Linked DNA regions of Homo sapiens. The protein of the gene in region 1 binds, or shares a complex with, the protein of each later gene. Each region holds a gene or a part of one and is shown on either strand. Other genes may lie near its edges.

Region 1 (7,024 bases):
ATATCTGGTAACACCTTCACAAATCACAAAGGAAAACTTAAGAGCCAATCTCTAAAAATTTGGTTTAAATACATAGAAATCAAAGGTATAGCACGGCAAAATATCCAGCAATTCCTCAAGTGAATTTACTGGTAGCTAGGATTTATCTCAAATGACAATATTCAATTTTAGTAAGAGATTTTATTTTTAAATGTTTCTAGTAACCCAAAAGACTTCCACCCGTGACATGTACTACGTCAGACTAAGGCAATATGTTTTCTTTGGAAACGAAACAGTAACGTCTATTTGTAGGTAAAGGGAAGTTAGGAATAAAATAATCTTATCAGCTCAAAACTACCCTCCTTGGGCATGGAGCTTGGAAGGGTATGAAAGAATGTAGCCAGGGATAAAGTGAGCTCAGGTTTCTCTTATAACGAGATACCCATGTGTTCTAAGGTTCTAGGTATTGCCCAAGCACAGGGTTTCTTTTTTATTTTTTCCTGAGATGGTGTCTCATTATGTCACCTACTTTGGAATGCAGTGGTATTATGACACTGACTCATTGCAACCTCCGCCTCCCGGGCTCAAGCCATCCTCTGACCTCAGCCTCCCAAGTAGCAAGTAAGCTGAGACTACAAGCGCACACCACCACACCTGGCTAACTTTTTATTGGTTTTAATTTTTTGGTAAGATAGAGGGTTTCGCCATGTTGCCCAGGCTGGTCTCAAACTCCTAGGCTCAACGGATTCACTTGCCTCCACCTCCCCAAGTGCTGAGATTACAGGTGTGAGCCACCACACAGTGGAACAGGGTTTCTTAATGGACATTTTCAGTCGGATAATTCTTTGTTGGGGAGTAGCGGCAGCAGTGCTTGTCCTATGCACTGTAGGATGTTTAACAGCATAACTGGCCTCTACTCACTAGGTCCCTATAGCACCCCTCCAGTTATGACAACCAAAAAGTATTTCCAGACATTGCCAAATGTCCCCAGGAAGGGGGAAACAGGAGATGGAATTTCTGTAGTATAATCAGTATAGATAAGTACTAAAGAAGTTTTTTTTAGGAAAAAAACTTAGTGTTAATATTAACATTTATTAATTATACTGGCCCCTACAAAATAAGGATAAACAAAAATTAAAAATGAATAAAGCACTCATTTAAACCATGAACTTTTACTATGGGATACTGGATAAAGTTTGAATTAACATTTGTATTAATCCAGAAAGGAGAATTTTTAGAATTCAAAATTAAGACGAGTTTACCTGGTTGACTGCATTTGCCTTGTAGTTTCTGGATCTTCAAACATCTTCACAATTGGTTCTGTTTCTGCCTGAAGCTGTTTCAGTTGTGCAACCACTGTGGTTCTTTTCTCTCTCAAAGCTAATTAAAAATGCAGAAGAGCACTACAATGTTAAGGAATGTTAAATTGTGCTACTCATCATGAGAATGTCTGGAAATTTTTCAGTGTATTTAAACTATACATATATTTATTTACCCCCAATATATTCATATGCCATGGGCTACTCAGTCAGAAATGTCCCCGATCCCTAATTTCTTTTTTCTACTAATACAAAGGCACAAAAAGGAAAAGGGAATCCTCTTCCTACTCTTGAGGGAAACTAGAGAATATACAGCCTTGGGGTGACAGAGGGATGTGAAAGAAAAAAAGGGTAGGACCCAATTATCTATCATTTAATTCTCCATTGCAGAAACTTCTTTCCAAGTGTTTTTATATTTGTTCTCATTTAATTTTCTTAGGTGAATATTATCCCAGAGTTTTTGAAGAAAAACTCAGAGGGATTTACATATTACTATTACAGGTTATCAACTAGGTTGAATGGAATTTAAATCCATTAAATAATCTCTTTTAACCACAAATCCAGCTCTATAATCTCTCAAACCAAATTCTATCGTTCCTTTTACTATACTATGAAAAGGTGGAGAAAACTTGCACATAACCAACTCTGGTAACACCTTAATGTTTCATTAAGAAACTAAGAAATAGGCCAGGGGCAAGGGCGCACGCCTGTAACCCCAGCAACTTGGGAGGCCAAGGCGGGCTGATCACGAGGTCAGGAGTTCAAGACCAGCCTGGCCAATATGGTGAAACCCCGTCTCTACTAAAAATACAAAAATTAGCTGGGCATGGTGGTGGGCACCTGTAGTCCCAGCTACTCGGGAGGCTGAGGCAGGAGAATGGCGTGAACCCGGGAGGCGGAGCTTACAGTGAGCCGAGATCGCACCACTGCACTCCAGCCCGGGCAACACAGCGAGACTCCATCTCAAAAAAAAAAAGAAAGAAACTAAGAAATAGTTTCCTTTTTGTTTATCCATGACAAACTAAAAAAGAGATACTGTTATTGCAGGGAACTACAAGTCAAACATGTGGATTATGTTTAATGTAATAATGTCTGTATTATATATTAGAAAGTATATTCTAGAGCAGTCTTTCTGAAACACAGAAGATCTATGATCAAATTTTGAGAAATGCCAATTTAATCACAGTATACTGTATTTCTCTACTGCCAAAATTCTTGGAACCTTTAAAAATGTAATGTGCATTGAAGAAATGACACAGAATTATTTCCCAAACTTAAGAGGACCACTTAACAGTTTTGATTAAGTAGGTCTGGTGTGTGGCCAAAAACCTGCATTTCTAACAAGCTCTCCCAGGTGAACTGATGATGCTGGTCCTGGGGACCATATTTGGAGAACAATGTCTACACTAGATGCCTCAAAATTAAAAAAAAAAACACAAAACTCTAAGGCACACAATGCACTAACTGAAAAAGTTAGCAACCCAAGAACTGCAACATTCTCAGATAATTCTAAGGAATGTGAATCATAAGCACAACTTTGATGATACATACTATGAAATGAAGGCATCTGATGACCATATTTTAAAGTAGTTCCACATCTTTCACAGGGAGAAAACAATATATTTCGGAAGATATGAAACCTTTATATAACCTCTCACCCAAAGAACATTAACATTCAAATCATATTTAAGCCTTTTGGCTAAAGCTGTCTTATAAATCATAAAACTTTAATACACACATCCTCAAGTCACAAGACAAGTTTCAGTTCTAATGACAAAACTTACCATGAGGAATATCATCAGAATAAAGGTTTTTGTATACATCCATAGCAAAGTCTACCATGTTGGTATCACTAAGAAGGTCCAATTTACCTTGTAATAATTCCTTTTCATTATATATCTGCAAAAGAAGATAACTTTCTAATGAATATATTTAAGTTCCCCAAATAAACTGATTAATACTAAAACTAATTTACCTGGAAATATATTTCAAGAAATACTTTATAAAATACGATAAACCATTAACATTCCCCTCTTGTAATAATGGCAAGCAATATGGCAAGCAACCAACCTATAGACGTAAAAGTATTTTACTTACCTAAAAATTTTAAAATGAAGAGAATTACTGTAGACATTCCCACCTACTTCTGATTTACATGACCTTATTTTTTATGTGTCCCTACAAACCATCTCTTACCCTTTCTAGGCAAGGCTGTGTATAAATAAAACCCACGCCATCTTTCCTGTAAAGCACATATAGCTGTCACTTCTCCACATCCAGGTAATCAGTAATAAACTCCTATATGCTTCTCCATCCACATTGCTGAAACAACCTGCACCAAGTTTTTAAGTCAACCATGTCAGATCAGGCTTTTGCTTTGCAAAGGATCCAAAAAAGCATAATTTAACCTATAGTACAGGGAGCAAATAGATACATATACACAAACTCACAACAACATGAAGTGTACTGAGTAATATGTAAAGATTCTACAAAATATTCACGGACAGAAATGCTTCAGCAAAAGAAAAGATTTCTGTACTGAACTTAATTTTGCAAGGAAAGAAAAATCCAAGAAAATGCCACAATATTTCACTGCCCACAAAAAATAAAGATGAAGGTGGTCAAAGGGTATTTAGCCATGAGAGCAAAATCGAACCTTCCAAATTACATGCAGAACTCCTATAAATGAGTAAGACAAGACAGACCTTGCAATTGAAATGGCTAAAAGATAGGCACTTCGCAAAAGAAGACAACCAAATGGCCAACAGACACATGAAAAGGTTCTCAACGTCATTAATCATAAGGAAATGCATACTAAAAATTACAATAAAAACCTAAAAAATCCTGACAATACCAGTGTTGGTGTGGATGTAGACTAACTGGAACCTATTCTCTTCTGGCAGGAATACAACTACTTTGTAAGATTTTTATCTCCCAAAGCCAAACATACTTTTTGATCCAGCAATTGTTTCGAGGCATCCAAAACAAATGGGTGCATATAGTCAAAGTGCACTTCCAAAAATGTACACAGGAGCACTATTTGTAATAGCCAAGTCTATCAATGTTAAAATGAGAAAACAAACCACAGCATACTCATAATAGATTAACATTCGGCACTGAAAAATCAATGAACTACTACTGCTATCCTAAAAACATGATGACTCACAAACAATGCTGAGTGAAAGATGTCATACAAAGCAGTACATGGTGGTAAATGCTTAACTCCACCTATATAAAAATCAAAAACAGGCAAAATGAATCATCAGACTACAGCTTACCTTTAGGGGGTGTGAGTAGTGACTAACAGGGGTCAAGATGAAGGTTTAAGGATGTCGCCAGGCGCAGTGGCTCACGCCTGTAATCCCAGCACTTTGGGAGGCCGAGGCAGGCGGATCACGAGGTCAGGAGATCGAGACCATCCTGGCTAACACGGTGAAACCCTGTCTCTACTAAAAATACAAAAAATTAGCCGGGCGTGGTGGTGGGCGCCTGTAGTCCCAGCTACTCGGGAGGCTGAGGCAGGAGAATGACGTGAACCCAGGAGGTGGAACTTGCAGTGAGCCGAGATTGCGCCACTGCACTCCAGCCTGGGCCACAGAGCAAGACTCTGTCTCAAAAAAAAAGAAAAAAAAAAAAAAAAAAAAAAGGATGTCTGTAATGTTTTATTTATTAATCTGAGTGGTGGTCACATAAATGTATTCGCTATTCATTTTGAAAAAAATATGTATCATTGACCAGTACATTTATATTTGTGTACTTGTATGAATGAACGTCATATCTGATAAAAAATTTACCTAAAAAACCTTAACTTCTCATCACTTTGCCCTATAGAAACACTAATCTTAAATAAAAACATTCTTTTCCAAGCACGCTACCTCTCCCCACTCCACTAGTAACTTTTAATTTGCCACGTCTCTCTCCACAATAGATTCAATAGCCTTGCTCCTCTACCATCAGGTGTTACTGTCCTGTTCTCAAATCTACATATGCCTCTCAATTCTGCCTCATAAGCAGAAAGCAAATACTTCAGACTTTGTATCAAGAAGCAACAATTGAAAATACTATATAAGTACTCACATGAAAAACGAGAATCAAATTTCCACAATTTTTTAAAAATTTTGAAACAGAAATAATAACAGTAAAAGTTTTTGTAATACAGGTCTATTAATAAGAATAGAATGCTTTTTCAAGAGAAATTATTTCACTTAATTGGGGTATAAAGTTAATATTCTATAATTGCTAATGTTTGCAAATGTTCCTCTGTTACAAACTATTCTTAGCCCCAAAACCACACAAAAACAGGCTGCTATCTGATTCCCAGGCTATAGTCTGCTGATCCGTCGTCTATCAACCTCTTGAAAACATATTACTTTTTAACAGATTAAGAATCTTTTTTTGCTGTCTCTTCCTCTGCTGTCATTCAACACAAATATAATGCCATACTGATGACTCTTTAAAAGCTTGAGCCCTAAAATTCCTTTATTCCTCAAATTATGACAATTTTCATCATGTATCTCATCTCCAAGAATTCCAACTTAAAACTGATAACCCCTCATCTCCAAGAATTCCAACTTAAAACTGATAACCCCTTCCACCATTACCATTAAAATCTTCATCATCTCAGACTTTCTGCCCTTTCTAATTTTTGTAATACCCTTTTTGATGTCACTTTCTGCCTTAGTTTGGATATCATTTTTAGCTATTTCAAAGATTTTCTCTTCAGTTCTATCATTGATTCTTTCAAACTAATTTCTCCAACTATATACAATTCAGTGTCAATCACTAACTCTGGAAAAAAAGTCACCTATTCTCTAGGTTCTGGCTAAGGATGACTACAAAATGTTTCAAAATTAGGGAATAATGTTATTCGATCACATCTGTGCTTCTCTAAATGGCATTTACATACAAGCCTACCCCTAAATATGTCTATACTACTCCCATAGCCTTCTACCGCTCCTCGCCCTGAGAATGACCCCATTATTAGCTCTAAGGTATGATTTCCAATCTCAGTTGGGCCCTCCACACTTAACCAATCCTTGTACTTTCCTTTGATCAGTTTCTTAGTAACCATTTCCAGTCCTTACCTTACTCCTCAAAACCCTCACTGCCCCCCCCTCCCATCCCATACCAATACAGAATGGGCTAGTCTTCCAAAATAAAAAACATTTAGAGCCAAGGGTGGTGGCTCATGTCTGTAATCCCAGCACTTTGCGAGGCCAAGGTGGCAGATCACTTGAGTTCAGGAGTTTGAGACCAGCCTGGGTAACATGGTGAAACCCCATCTCTACAAAAAATACAAAAAAAATCAGCCGGACATGGTGGCGCACACCTGTAGTCCCAGCTACTTCTGGGGCTGAGGTGGGAGAATTGCTTGAGCCCAGAAAGTCAGGGCTGTAATGAGCTAAGATTGTGCCACTGCACTCCAGCTTAGGTGACAAAGCGAGACCCTGTCTCAAAACACAAAACATTAAGGAGTACTCACTCTGTCCCAGAAGAGCGTAGTGTTTTATATGCATTATCTCATGTAATTTTTCTAACCCGATGAGATTGGTGGTAGTATTAACATTTTATTCATGAGAAAAGGTTAAGAGGGTAAAAGAATCTGCTCTGACTGCACAGAGGTATTAAATGACCGAGTCATGAAAGGTCCAATTCAGAGCCCAGGGTCCTAAATATTTCACTATCTGGCCTTCTGCTTCACATGAAAATAAAGAAGAGTGAGAAAC
Region 2 (7,777 bases), on another chromosome or scaffold:
CGAAGGCCTCAGAGTACAAAACACCCTCCATATGAAGTAAGCAAAGACATAAATGATAGAACTCAAAAAGCAACACGCAAAATGGAACCCTCAACTGTTGAGCGACTACTACTGTTTTTGTTAATTATACTGTGAATATGTACTTAAAACTGAGAAGAATGCAAACAAAACTGATTTTTCATATTTCATTAATTCCACGACACTCTCTTTTTACTGTAACATCTTTAAAATGAGGCTGCACCTTGTGTTTGACAGGGTGTTGTATTGATTGGTAGTTTTTCTTTTTCTGTGTTACATAAGTGTTTAAAAAAATTTAATGGTGTCAGATTTGATAAAATGTCCTAATGTTTTTTCAAATATAGTAACCTTGTTTTGGTTCTGAGATATACCTTCACCAATTCATACAAACTCAACTTCCCTAAGACTTAGTAGTCTTTTCTTTCTTTCTTTTTTTTTTTTGAGACAGAGTCTCACTTTGTCACCCATGCTGGGGTGCAGTGGCGTGCAACTTCCGCCTTCCGAGTTCAAGCGATTCTCCTGCCTCAGCCTCCTGAGTAGCTGGGATTACAGGCAAGCGCCGCCTGGCTATTTTCTGTGTTTTTAGTGGAGACAGGGTTTCACCATGTTGTCCAGGCTAGTCTTGAACTCCTGACCTCAAATGATCCTCCCGCCTCGACCTCCCAAAGTGCTGGGATTACAGGCGTGAGCCACCACGTCCAGCCACCTTAGTCTTTTCCATCTGCAAAATAAACAAGATCCTTGTTCTAAGCACTTTGTATAATGCCACACAAGTATTCAGACTTGCAAAAGTGCATTTATGTATATAGAGTGCTGAGAAAAAAAGATCTTTAAGTATATCCTGAAATTCAATTTTCCTTTCTCATTGTTTCAATTTTCTGCCATCAACGCAAATCCTGTGTGCAGTGCAAGCGGACATAAAGCCAGGCAGAAGAACTGCCAGAGGGCCAAGGAGGTCCCCACAGACCTCAGGCCCAAAGTTGCCATGTTAAATGTTCATGAATACTGCCAGGCACTGTTCTTACTGTTTACCACTCATTCATTCATACAGTCCTGCCAACAATCCTGTGAGGTAGGAGCCAATGTTATCCGCACTCTCCAGATAAGAAAACCAAAGCACAGAGAAATGAAGAAATTGCCCAAAGTTGAAATGCTAGTGGATGAAAAACGTGAACCAAAGCAGTCTGACCCCAGAGTCTGCACTCTGCATAATGCTATAGCCCTCTTGGGAATTAAAAAACCGGCGCTGTATAGCAGATGGCTGCCCGACACTTCTATAAAAAAACCTATGCATTTATCTTCCGTTGTAACCTTCTGAAAATGCTTAGAAGGCGAGTTCCTAGAGGAAAATTCACTACACAAGTATTTCTTGGAGGCCGGGCGCGGTGGCTCACGCCTGTAATCCCAGCACTTTGAGAGGCCGAGGTGGGCGGATCACGAGGTCAGCAGTTCGAGACCAGCCTGGTCAACATGGTGAAACCCAGTCTCTACTAAAAATACAAAAATTAGCTGGGCGTGGTGGCGGGCACCTGTAATACCAGCTACTCAGGAGGCGGAGGTTGCAGTGAGCCAAGATCCTGCCATTACACTCCAGCCTGGGCAACAGAGCAAGACTCCGTCTCAAAAAAACAAAAATCAAATGTTTCTTGGAGGCTGGAGAGCAATCAAAAGAACAGGTATGCTGAACTTAGTAAACTCTCCTCAAAGCCCCATGCTGGGGAGATTGAGGCTTCCTTCAGAGATGACATTTGGGTGACAGCAACACAGGATGAACCTAGAAGTTTCATCTTTCTAATAGAAACTATAGGAAGAGGACAGAAGAAAAAGGGTGGTGGTCTCAGAACAATTTGTATTAAATAAATATTGCTGAGCTCCTACGTGTTAGGCCCTATACCAGATAATTTAACACCATTGACCACCCCCCCACCCCTACTTTAGAGGCAAAAATTTGAAGCTCAGCCTACTCAAGCAGCTGACCTCATCATTTCAAAACAGATTTGATTTCCAGGGTTGCCTGCTGTCAGTCCAGCCTTCTTTCCATTATATTACAGCTGGGCAGCAGCCCGCAAAGATCAGGGGTTTGAGACCGTACATCATAATACCAAGACAACGAGTCTCAAAACACACTTTAAAAAATCGGGTTCTGTCAGAAGCTCAAGAAGGGAAGAGGCCCGAGGCTCGACCTGCATCACCTCCCTGGAAAGCCAGGGATGAGATACCCTGGCTTTAATAAATGTTTTTTTTTTTAAGAGCAGAGCGGAACCAGGAGGAGAAACTGAGCCGCTCAGCAAAAACGAAGTAACAGCTGTACTAGTCACAGGGGCAGGATAGGGAGGTTCCAAGAGGGCACTCAGAAGGGGCTCTGTGGTTGGCAGGCCACTACAGATCATAAGCCGTCCATCGCTGAACAGGGGGTGGGGTAGATTTAAGATCAGAGATCAAATCTACTTCTCTATCCTAGCCTCCAGTTTCACAAAAAAGGAAAGATAACCTATGCACTGTGAATTCCTAAGAACAGGGGCCAAACACCGCTCAGCCTGGTACCCCTAAGACCTCACTCAAAAAGTCAGGGAGTTTTCGGCCACTTCAGAAAGACTTTGTTGTTACCCCTCCGTCTTAACCCAGGTGAGTTAAGTGACAATCAAATTCACCCAGCTCATGGGCACTGAGCAGGGCCGAGGGCCAAGGACCTCACCCACAAGGTCGTGTCCCGCGTTCAGTAGCGTGCGGGACGCGGGGCCCCCGAAAGTGGATTCCTGCCCCGCCCAGCGGAGGGACGGCAACAGCAGGAAGGGACTAAGAGAGGTCTCTTCCGGGAGGCCCCCCGAAGGCTGGACCTAGTCCGAACCGGCTCCGGAGGGCCGCAGGAACCTATGAAACACGCCGCTCACCTGCAATGGCCTCGGCCGGCCGGGATGGCAACAGATGGTGCGTGCCGGGGACCGCGTTAGCAGCAGCACTCTTGAGAAACCAGGAAAAGAGGAAACATGCGCGCGCAGCGGGCGCCGCCGTAAACACGACCGGCGCTGTCGTAAACTGCTCTCCCGCTTCCTCTGGGTTGGGCGGAAGAACTCACGAGCCGTAAAGCGAAGGTCCACCCGGAAATCCGTTACTGCGTTTCGCCAGGCGTCCTCATTAGCCTCCGAGGCGCCGAGACGCGAGAGGTGTGATTGGCACTACGTCAGGCGGTATCCGGGGACGCCCAAAGAGGGCGTTCATCACTGAAACTTGGCGGCCGCGCAATCGAAGCTCGAGGCGGGGAGCGACTGGCGCCCTTCTGTGTCCCACAATGCTTCGCGGCGCGCCTCAGCCCCCATGTATCCCACCGTCACCCGCGACTCCCCGCCTGTTCTACCTGCCTGCTTAATGTGAAACTCAGCGCAGGGGAGGTCCGTCGGTGTCTTAGGCGGTCCTTATTGTTACTCCTCCGCCTTTATAGTTGTGGAAACTGAGGCTCAGAAGTGCCAAGTGACCTGCCTAGATCAGACTGTTAGTTTAGGGTTCTAACCGCCAGAGTTCAAACCATACTTCCGCAGTTCTCAAACTTAATTGTAGGACAGGGATTTCTGGAACAGTGTTTTTATTTATTTTTATTTATTTTTTGAGACAGGGTTTCGCTCTGTCGCCCAGGCTGAAATGTAGTGGCAGGATCACGGCTTATTGCACCCTCGACTTCTCAGGTACAAGCGATCCTCCCAGTTCAGCCTCCCGAGTCGTTGGTGTACACAGGCACGCACAACCACGCCTGCCTAATTTTTGTATTTTTGGTAGAGATGGGGTTTTGCTATGTTGCTCAGGCTGGTCTCAAACTCCTGAGCTCAACAGTCCACCCACTGGGGCTAGGGTTACAGGCATGAGTCACCGTACCCGGCCAGCTAATGATTTTTAAAAATTTTGTAGAGACAGCGTCTCACTATGTTGCCCGGGCTGGTCTTTAACTCCTGGTCTAAAGTGGTCCTCTCGCCTCAGCGTGCGGAGCAGCTGAGGCTACAGGTGCATGCCACCATGCCTGGCTAATTTTTTTTTTTAGACGGAGTCTTGCTCTGTCTTCCAGGCTGGAGTGGAGTGCAGTGGCGCTATCTCAGTTCACTGCAACCTCCGCATCCCAGGTTCAGGTGATTCTCCTGCTTCAGTCTCCCGAGTAGCTGGGATTGCAGGCGTGTACCAACATGCCCGGCTAATTTTCCTTTTAGTAGAGACGGGGTTTCACCTTGCTGACCAGGCTGGTCTCGAACTCCTGACCTCAGGTGATCTACCCACCTCGGCCTCCCAAAGTGCTAGGATTACAGGCGTGAGCCACTGCGTCCGGCTGCCTGGCTAATTAAAAAAAAAAAAAAAAACTTCTGTGGAGACGAAGTCTCATCATGTTGCCAAGGCTAGTCTCAAACTCCTGGGCTCAAGCAGTCCTCCTGTCTCGGTCTCCCAAAGTGCTGGGATTACGGGCGTGAGCCACCACACCTGACCAGGATAGTATTTTTAAAAATTCAGATTCTGGGTCTCATTTTGATAGATTATACGGATATGTTTATGCTGGAGCCCAAGAGCTCCGCATTAGCTGTGATTCTGAAGTGACGACTCAGGAACTGCTTTACTACAGTAGATAACAGTGCTGTCCTCTCAGCAACTCCCAGGCTATGGAGTTCCTCCTGGTGTCTTTCTTTCGGAATTTTAAAACAATGAAAGATAATCTGAGGGCATGACTTTATTCAAACCTCAGATCCTTTCTACCTGACATAGGTTTCCTTAGCCGCCTAGTATGTCTCCTTTATTAGAAAATATACCTGAAGTCTAGGCTCTGCCACATTCTTTTTTTTTTCTTTTCTTTTCTTTTTTTTTTTTTGAGACGGAGTGTCGCTCTGTTGCCAGGCGGGAGTGCAGTGGCGCGATCTCAGCTCACTGCAACGTCCACCTCCTGGGTTCAAGTGATTCTCCTGTCTCAGCCTCCTGAGTAGCTGGGAATACAGGCATGCGCCACCATGCCCAGCTAATTTTTATATTTTTAGTAGAGACAGGGTTTCACCATGTTGGCTGGGATGGTCTCAATCCCTTGACCTTGTGATCCCCCCGCCTCGGCCTCCCAAAGTGTTGGGATTACAGGCATAAGCCACTGTGCCCAGCCAGCTCTGCCACTTGATAGCTATGTGTGGCCTTCACATTCCTTGCCTTGTTTCCTTATTTGTAAATTGAAGATGATAATTAGAGGGCGCTGTGGGGGTGAAAATAAATGTGTGTGAAAGGACTTAGTAATTCCACTTATCATTTGGGTGAACTTGGACAGGTTATTCAACCTCTTTTTTTTTTTTTTTTTTTTTTTGAGACAGAGTCTCGCTCTGTTGCCCAGGCTGGAGTGCAGTGGCGAGATCTCGGCTCGCTGCAACCTCTGCCTCCCAGGTTCAAGCAATTATCTGCCCCAGCCTCCCGAGTAGCTGGGATTACAGGTGCCCACCACCATATCCGGCTAATTTTTTGTACTGTTAGTAGAGACGGGGTTTCACCATGTTGGTCAGGCTGGTCTCGAACTCCTGACCTTGTGATCCACCCGCCTCAGCCTCTCAAAGTGCTGGGATTACAGGCGTGAGCCACCGCACCTGGCCTATTCAACCTCTCTAAACCTGCTTATTCATCTGAAAAATGAGAATGCTAATAGCAGCACCTATTTCCATAAGCTCTCTCCCAACTGCTCATTTTTTTTTTTTCCTAATTTTTGTTAATGGTGTCTGGTGAATTGTGCCCAGTGGAAAGCCTTGTAGTCATCACTGGTAGTTCGTTTTTCCTTCCCTCCCACATTTAGTTCTTCACTATGTTCTCTTTATTCTACTTGCACAATGCATCTTGAATGCTATCACTTTTTTTTTTTTTTTTTTTTTGAGACAGAGTCTTGCCCTGTCACCCAGGCTGGTGTGCAGTGGCGCAATCTCAGCTCACTGCAACCTCCGCCTCCCGGGTTCAAGCAATTCTCCTGCCTCAGCCTCCCAAGTAGCTGGGATTACAGGCGTGTGCCACCACGCCTGCCTAATTTTTTGTATCTTTAGTAGAGATGGGGTTTCTCCATGTTGGTCAGGCTGGTCTCGAACTCTTGACCTTGTGATCCACCCGCCTCGGCCTCTCAAAGTGCTGGGATTACAGGCGTGAGCCACTGTGCCCAGCCGAATGCTATCACTTTTTATCCCCATTTCACATCACGCTTGGATACACTCTTGCTGCTCTAGGGTTTCTTCTCTATATGGTGGTCAAAGGAATCTGTCCACAACCTTCTACTAGCTTCCCATTATATGCTTAGAGGGAAATATGAATATCTTTTTGTGGCCTGTGTGGTCACTGTCTACCTTTGTTATTTTTAAAATATTTACTTCTTTGAGACAGGGTCTTGCTCTGTTGTCCAGGCTGGAGTGCAGTGGTGTGATCATGGCTCACTGCAGTCTTGACCTTTTGGGCTCAAGCAATCCTCCCACCTCAGCCTCCGAGTAGGTGGGACTAGAGGCTCATGCTGCCACTCCTGGCTAATTTTTAATTTTTTGTAGAAATGGGGTCTCACTATGTTGCCCCGGCTGGTCTGGAACTCCTGGGCTTAAGCCATCCTCCAGCCTTGGCCTCCCAATATGCTGGGATTACAGGTGTAAGCCACCTCACCTGGCCACTGGTCTACCTCTAGCCACCATATTCTTCTTGTGCCTTAAATACACTGAACTTCTTTCTTTCTTTTTCTTTTTTTTTTTTTTGAAACGGAGTCTAGCTCTGTTGTCCAGCCTGGAGTGCAGTGGTGTGATCTTGGCTCACTGCAACCTCTGCCTCTGGGGTTCAAGTGATTCTCCTGCCTCAGCCTCCCAAGTAGCTGGAACTACAGGTGTGTGCCTCCACACCAGGCTAGTTTTTGTATTTTTAGTAGAGACGGGGATTCATCATGTTGGCCAGGCTGGTCTCAAACTCCTGACCTCCAGTGATCCATCCACCTTGGCCTCCCAAAGTGCTGGGATTACAGGCGTGAGCCACTGTGCCCAGCCCACCAGCCTTCTTTCCATCTCAGCAGGGCCTCTGGACTTGACGTTCTTTCTGCATGGCACACTCTTCCCCCAGGTTTCCTGGTAGTTGAATTGGTCTCATCATCTATGCCTCTGCTCGAGAGTTAACTCCTTATGCAGGTCTTTTCTGACCATCATTTCTAAAACAGGTGATTGTATTAGTCCATTTTCATGCTGCTGATAAAGACATACTGGAGACTGGGAAATTTACAGAAGAAAGAGGTTTAATGGACTTACAGTTCCACATGGCTGGGGAGGCCTCACAATCATGGCAGAAGGCAAGGAGGAGCAAGTCACATTTTACATGGATGGTAGCAGGCAAAGAGAGAGCGCTTGTGTAGGGGAACTCCCCCTTTTAAAATCGTCAGATCTTGTGAGACTTATTCACTATCATGAGAACAGCATGGAAAAGACCTGCCCCCATGATTCGATTACCTCCCCCTGGGTCCCTCTCACAGCACATGGGAATTCAAGATGAGATTTTGGTGAGGACACAGCCAAAGCGTATCACTGGCATAGAGTAGGTGCTTAAGTAGGTACTCATTGACTGAGTTAATGAAAAAAAGAATCTGGCCAGTGGTGGTGTCTCATGCCTGTAATCCCAGCACTTTGAGAGGCCAAGGCGGGCAGATCACCTGAGGTCAGGAGTTTGAGACCAGCCTGGCCAAAATGGTGAAATCCTCTACTAAAAAAACAAAAATTAGCCAGGTGTGGTGGAAGGCACCCTGTGATCCCAGCTA

Evidence for each region.
Region 2: EIF3E (region 1) and EIF3D share a complex: the UniProt entries of both Homo sapiens proteins name them as parts of the eukaryotic translation initiation factor 3 (eIF-3) complex.

What each region holds. Positions count from the first base shown.
Region 1 is NC_000008.11:108,238,717-108,245,740, forward strand, and holds part of EIF3E (eukaryotic translation initiation factor 3 subunit E), read right to left. Parts: intron 3,198-7,024; coding exon 3,083-3,197; intron 1,360-3,082; coding exon 1,242-1,359; intron 1-1,241. UniProt on the Homo sapiens protein: Component of the eukaryotic translation initiation factor 3 (eIF-3) complex, which is required for several steps in the initiation of protein synthesis.
Region 2 is NC_000022.11:36,526,167-36,533,943, forward strand, and holds the start of EIF3D (eukaryotic translation initiation factor 3 subunit D), read right to left. Parts: upstream 3,001-7,777; 5' UTR 2,910-3,000; intron 1-2,909. UniProt on the Homo sapiens protein: mRNA cap-binding component of the eukaryotic translation initiation factor 3 (eIF-3) complex, a complex required for several steps in the initiation of protein synthesis of a specialized repertoire of mRNAs.